Linked DNA regions of Homo sapiens. The protein of the gene in region 1 purifies or fractionates together with the protein of each later gene. This does not show direct contact. Each region holds a gene or a part of one and is shown in the gene's direction. Other genes may lie near its edges.

Region 1 (3,652 bases):
GGTGCACACCACCACACCCACCTAAGTTTTGTATTTTGGTAGAGACGGGGTTTCACCATGTTGGTCAAGCTGGTCTTGAACTCCTGACCTCAAGTGATCCGCCCGCCTCGCCCTCCCAAAGTACTGGGATTACAGGTGTGAGCCACTGCGCCTGGCCTATGCATTGTATTAATTTAGCATATTCCAAAAATAATTTAAGACAGGCAAATGATAAATGTGGATGTTTCTGGTGGTGCATCACATTGTAGGTGATTTCATTTTAGTAGTTGTACCTGCATAGGGCTAAAAATTAACCCTCTCAAAGCTCTGAGAGTGCCGGAGGGCCTGAAAGAGTGCCTGGTACTTCAAAGGTTCCCAGGGATAAGAAAAATGAATGAGACAGTGCTTGCTCTCAAGAATTTCTCATCCATTTGGAAGACAACGTACATTTTATAACAGTATAATTATAAGGGCAGGCTAAATAGGATATGGTCACCTGGGCTGGGAGATGGAAAAGGAATGAGGGGGTTTGAGGAGGAAGAGGATGCTCAAGTTGAGTCTTAAATGATTAATTCCTTCTATTCATAAGGGCAGGATGGATAAACGTGATCAGGTTCTAGGCCCTGCTCTGCTTCTATCAAGCGGTGAGATATTGAGCAAACTGCTTAATACTTCTGGTATCCATTTTCCTTATTCAGGATTCGACTACATATATAAAGCAGTGCTGTACATGAGAAATATGTGAGCCAAAAATGGGAGTCACATAGGTAGGAGATTTTACATTATTTTTTTCCCCTAAATCTTTTAAATCTGGTGTATGTTACACTTGGTACATCTCAATTTGGAACAGCCACATTTCAGGCACTTAATAGCTCCATGTAACTAGTAACTGCCATATTGGACAGTATAGATCTAGAGGCTGGGTGCATTAATGCATGCCCATAGTCCAGTGCTTTGGAGGATCGAGGCAGGAGGATCTCTCTTTTTTTTTTTTTTCTTTGAGACGGAGTCTCGCTCTGTCGCCAAGGCTGGAGTGCAGTGGCGTGATCTCCGCTCACTGCAAGCTCCGCCTCCCAGGTTCACACCAGTCTCCTGCCTCAGCCTCCCGAGTAGCTGGGACTACAGGCGCCCGCCACCACGCCCAGCTAATTTTTTATATTATTTTAGTAGAGACAGGGTTTCACGGTGTTAGCCAGGATGGTCTCAATCTCCTGACCTTGTGATCTGCCCGCCTCGGCCTCCCAAAGTGCTGGGATTACAGGCGTGAGCCACTGTACCCTGCCAGCAGGAGGATCTCTTGAGCCTAGGAGTTTGAGGCTGCAGTGAGCTATGATCACCACTGCACTCCAGCTTGGGTAACAGAGTGAGACACTGTCTCAAAAAACAACCACCACCACAAAAAAGATCTAGAGGCTATTCTGTCTTGGTTCTCTGCTTGAAAAAGGAAAAGGGACTCCAATGAGAAAATTATCACTGGTAATTTATAATTTGTAATCATTTTGATGGTACTCATATATGATGTTCTTTTGATGAGAATTATGGTCATACTTGCAAATATTGCTGTAAGTATCTTTCAGGTTGTTCATAGGATTATGGTTGGGATGAGAAGAAATGTCTTTGTTTTCTCTGCATCTGTAGTGGAGTCATATTTTTGTTATCTTTATTTTGTTCATTTATGTATACTTTGTATCCTTTTTTTCTACAGTATGTTATTTCTTTTTTTCTTTCTTCTTTTTTTTTTCTAATAGAGATGGTGTCTCACTATGTTGACCAGGCTGGTCTTGAACTCCTGGCCTCAAGCGATCCTCCCATCTTGGCCTCCCAAACTGCTGGGATTACAGGCATGAGCCACTGCACTCGGCCTGCAGTCTGTTTTTCTAATGTAATGGATTTAAAACACAATGAGAGTGCATATGGACATTTTAGAAAGTTAAAAGGAGAATTTATACAATTTTAAACTAATTCTTGGATTTCTTAAAATTTTAAACTTAGCTATTTGGGTACAAAAACAAATGGGATTTATAAATCCTCTTTTAATAGATTTGAAGGCAGTTATTGTTGGCTTAGCAACAAGTATTTATCTTTTAACCTTGAGACTGCATTAAGATAGTGTATAATTAACATGCTTACTGTTAAACATAAGGCTTTCTGTTAGTATTACAGTATAACAGTTACATTATTGATATGACTGATGTGCAATGTTGGTGCACTTAATTTGCTGTGCACTGAGCTTGGTTAAAAAACACTAGTGGCTAATTTTAGACAAGATAGCTATGACTGACAATAATACATCTTTACACTTGGATTGACTGATGGTTATAGCTTAGCTAACACTGTTTTCCCTCCAAGACCTTATTACCTGTGAGGTAAATACAGCAAGTATTCTGATTTTGCTGAGGCCCAAAGATGTTGTGACTTACTTAGCATAATAAATTAGAAGCATTGCTTGAATTCAGGTCTTAACAATGCTAGGCCCAGTGTTCTGTTCTTTTTTTTTTTTGAGGGAGGTTCTCTCTGTGTCGCTCAGGCTGGAGTGCAGTGGCTCCATCTCAGCCTACTGCAACCTCTGCCTCCCACACTTGGGTGATTCTCCCACCTTAGCCACCCAAGTAGCTGGGACTACAAGCACGTGCCATCACGCCTGGCTAATTTTTGTGTTTTTTGTAGAGGAGGGGTTTTGCCACATTGTCCAGGCTGGTCTTGAACCCCTGGGCCCACCTTGGCCTCCTAAAGCGCTGAGATTACAGGCATAAGCCACCACGTCCACCCCAGTATTCTTTTCTTTTCTTCCTTCTTTCTTTTTTTTTTTTTTTTCTGGAGATGAAGTCTCACTCTTGTCGCCCAGGCTGGAGTACAATGGCGCAATCTCAGCTCACTGCAACCTCCGCCTCCTGGGTTCAAGTGATTCTCTTGCCTCAGCCTCCCGAGTAGCTGGGATTACAGGTGCATGCCACCATGCCCGGATAATTTTTGTATTTTTGGTAGAGATGGGGTTTCACCATTTTGGCCAGGCTGGTCTTGAACTCCTGACCTAAGGCGATCTGCCCGCCTCTGCCTCCCAAAGTGCTGGGATTACAGGTGTGGGCCACCGCCCCGGGCCCCAGTATTCTTTTCATTGAATCTCTTCATATGGCATTTGAGTGTTTAGATACATAGTACAAACCAGATTTTTGGAGTGTATAAAGAAATAGTTACTTCCTGCCTTTGGGAAGTTTATATTCCAACTAGGAGAGACCAACTAACTACAATCCATGTAGCAAAAAGTACTTCAGTTATTTAAAAAAATTTGTTACGGGAAAGAAAAGATGTAAGGGATAATATAGTCAAATGGAAAATAGATAAGAGTTAATTAGACAAGATTTTTGAGTAAAGAGTTTAGATTGTAAATCCTTACTATAGGAAGAAGAAGATGATGAGGTGTTAAGGATAGTGTTATTTCAATGCACAGAGAACAACTTAAGGGAAAACTTAGCTAAGGGAACATAAAACGTAGGTTTAGGGAAAGCTTTTCTTTTTTTTTTTCTTTTTTCTTTTTTTTTTTTTTTTTTGAGACGGAGTCACGTTCTTTCACCAGGCTGTAGTGCAGTGGTGCGATCTTGGCTCACTGCAACCTCTGCCTCCCAGGCTCAAGTGATTCTCCTGCCTCAGCTTCTCAAGTAGCTGGGATTACAGG
Region 2 (3,652 bases), on another chromosome or scaffold:
TTGGGAAGTTGTTCGTTTGAATTATTTGTAGTTCCTGTTAAAGGCCCATGTTATGATTTCCCAGCTAGGGCCCTGTGTGAGTCAGAGTCATCCTGGGTGTGTTGCAACAAACTCGTTTCAAGTGGCCTTCCTTGGCCACTTGAAAGCAGGTGGGTGGAAGCTTTGGTGGCCCAGAGGCAATAGGAGGAAGGGCAGTTGCCATGTGGTGTAGACAGGTTCTGTGGGAAGGGCAGAAGCTAGAGATGTTCATAAACAGTGGGCCAGAAGAATCCTGGGAAACTCACTTGGGAGTGTTAGACTTTACAAGTTTTAGAAAGTTCTACAAGTTTTCAGGCTTCACCAGTTTACTGAGTGTCCCCTTCTAAGTTTGTCCAAATGCCTCAGCTGTCGTTACTTGAGTGATCCCACAGCCCCCCTACTAGATGCATACTCTGAGAGGAAATAGTGTGCAAAGAATATCTGGGAGTGAGACTGGCTTGGTCCCTTAATGGCCAGGTGAGACCTGTGAGCTGAGGAAGACTAGCCAGGTGGACTGGGTGGGGAGGCAGTAAGAGATGCAGGGAAGAGATCAGCCCAGGCAGAGGAAGCAGCTTGTGCAACATTCTGAACAGAGGAAGAGTGTAATTTTGCCTAATGACCACTGAATAGTCATTGTTAGTAGTTCTGCAGGTCATAATGGCACTGTTTCTGGAATCCCTATGTAAATACTCAGGCTACTAGAAATGGTGTCAATTAAGCCCCATGTTGGGTTGCAGATGTAGCATTCTCCATCCTTTGTGTGGAGTTCACGACCTGGTATCTCATTTCTGTGAATACCCACGGTGCTTGTGCCACCTCCTCTTTTGAAGTAAGCCCTGGCAATGCCTTGTGCTGGTTTCCCATTGTTGCCTGGCATCACTTGGCAGAGAAAGAAAGTAGCAGCTAATTCCTTTTTGTCTTGGTAGACACCTTGGCTTGTGCCCTGGAAGCCTTGCTCCTCTCAAAAACATCTCGCCGGGCACTTTGGGAGGCCGGGGCAGGCAGATCATTTGAGGCCAGGAGTTCGAGACCAGCCTGGCCAACATGGCAAAACCTCGTCTCTACTAAAAATATAAAAATTAGCCGGGCGTGGTGGCAGCGTGCCTGTAATTCCAGCTACTCAGGACGCCGAGGCATGAGAATCGCTTGAGCCCAGGAGGCAGAGGTTGCAGTGAGTGGAGATCGCGCCATTGTACTCCACCTTGGGTGACAGAACAAAATTCCTTCTCAAAAAAAAACAAAACGAAACATCTGATCAGAAGCTCCATTCTCACTTTCTTTCCTTCCTACAAAATTTTCTGCTTGGAAAGTATGCCTATAAATCAGGAAATTGATAACAACAATTAATGTGTTAGAAAAGTGAACATTTTAAATATAGCTCCATTGATGGAGCCTAGCTTCTGGGTAGGTGTTTCTATATCTTGAGCATACCACTTACCTCTTTGTTTTTGTTCTTAGAAATTACGACTTTGCATGGAGAAAGTTGACCAGAAAGCTCCAGAATACATCAGGATGGCAGCATCATTAAAGTAAGCTATTCATCTATGTTTTTCTAATCCAGTGGTGACTGTTTTCTGGCATTTTAGGTCAATTCTCCAGTAGCCAAAAATGAAAATCTTAACTTCAACCGTGCTTTTTTTCTGAGACCAGCTGAAGTTGGTTTTTTTCCACTTTTGGCTATTATGAAGAGAATCATCTTCATGTCTGTCTTTTAGTGGGGTACAGGCTACCATCACATGAGCTTGTAGAAAGACAGCCACATTCAGTTGACCTTGGCTATTCTGACTGAGCAGGTTTGGGAAGGGCCTCAGACAATAGGTACTGCTGCTGAGTGCAGCATCTGGACAGAGCAGAGGAAGGGCAGTGGGTCTCATGCTCATGTCTGGGTAGATGCCACTTGAGTGTCACATTGAGGTGTCAGGGCTTAAAGCAGGCATGACCATTAGAGCAGGGGCTGGCAGACTGCAGCCCGTGGGCCAAATGTATCCTGACATCTGCTTTTTTTTTTTTTTTTTCCGAGACGGAGTCTCACTCTGTTGCCAGGCTGGAGTGCAGTGGCGTGATCTCGGCTCACTGTGACCTCCACCTCCCAGGTTCAAGCAATTCTCCTGCCTCAGCCTCCCAAGTAGCTGGGACTACAGGCACGCACCACCACGCTCAGCTAATTTTTTTATATTTTTAGTAGAGACGGGGTTTCACCATGTTGGCCAGGATGGTCTTGATCTCTTGACCTCGTGATCCACCCGCCTTGGCTTCCCAAAGTGCTGGGATTACAGGCGTGAGCCACCGTGTCTGGCCAACATCTGCTTCTTTTTTAAAATTGAGATGTAGTTCACACACCCTAACCTTTACCCTTTTAAAGTGTACAGTTTGGTGGTTTTTAGCGTATTCACAAAATTAGCGAACATTACCACTGTCTTCATTGTAAACATTTTTATCACCCCAGTAGGAAACCCCATACCCATTAGCAGCCACTGCCCTTTCCCCATCTCCCTGGACACCACTAATCTATTTCCTGTCTCTATGGATTTGTCTGCTTTTGACATGTCATATAAATAGAATCATAAATATAAAATCTCTCTTGTCTGGCTTCTTTCACACAGTGTACTGTTTTTCAGATTCATCCATGTTGTTGCATGTATCAGTACTTCATTCCATCTGTATGAATGCATTGCATGGATACTTGTCACATTTTGTTTATCCATCAGTTGATGAACATTTGGGTTTTTTCCACTTTTGGCTGTTATAAATAATGCTTCTGTAATATTTGAGTACAAGTTTTTATGTTTTTTGTGTAGACATGTTTTCATTTCTCTCGGGTAGGTACCTAGGAGTGGAATTGCTGGGTTTTATGGTAACTATATATTACCATAGAGTAACATTCCATAGAGGAATTGCTAAATCGTTTTGTGGAATGACTGCACTATTTTGCATTCCCACCAGCAGTGTATGAGGGTTTCACTTTCTTTATAGCCTTACCAACACTAGTTATTGCCACCTGTTTGCATAAAGTTTTATTGGAACACAGCCATGCCCATGTTTGATTACTGTTTGTGGCTGCTTTTGCACCACCATGACAGAGTTGAATAGCAGCAACAGAGACTGTGTGGCCTGCAAAGCTGAAAACATTTATGATTCGGCTCCTTATGGAAAAAATTTGCTGATCCCTGCTTAAGATCGTTGCTTTTTCTGAAGCTTAGTGTTTGTAACCTAGAAGTTAAAGTGCTAACTACTAGAGTCAGATCCCAGCAGTGTTTTCCCAACCTGTAGGAAAAGAATTAATTATGGTATCTAGTGTTATTAATTTCAGAGTTTTCTGTCTTTGTCTTAAACCTGTGTTGCCTATCTGCCACATTTAAAGCGATGCATGTAGTAGTAGATGTGCCTTTTTTAAAAACAAAACCATGTGTATATATATATTTAAAACAAAACCATGTATATATATATATATATATATATATATATATATATATATATATATGTATTTTTTTTTTTTTTTTTGAGACCGAGTTTTGCTCTGTCGCCTAGGCTGGAATGCAGTGGTGCGACCTTAGCCCACTGCAACCTCCGCCTCCCAGTTCAAGCAATTCTTCTGCCTCAGCCTCCTGAGTAGCTGGGATTACAGGCACCCACC

What was found. The genes of interacting proteins can lie anywhere in the genome.
Region 2: the proteins of PIK3C2A (region 1) and RBSN fractionate together in Homo sapiens (co-fractionation; one large-scale study listed by BioGRID). This does not show direct contact.

Annotation. Positions count from the first base shown.
Region 1 is NC_000011.10:17,201,401-17,205,052, reverse strand, and holds part of PIK3C2A (phosphatidylinositol 4-phosphate 3-kinase C2 domain-containing subunit alpha), read left to right. Parts: intron 1-677; exon of another isoform or gene 678-746; intron 747-3,652.
Region 2 is NC_000003.12:15,078,627-15,082,278, reverse strand, and holds part of RBSN (rabenosyn-5), read left to right. Parts: intron 1-1,476; coding exon 1,477-1,547; intron 1,548-3,652. UniProt on the Homo sapiens protein: Rab4/Rab5 effector protein acting in early endocytic membrane fusion and membrane trafficking of recycling endosomes. Required for endosome fusion either homotypically or with clathrin coated vesicles.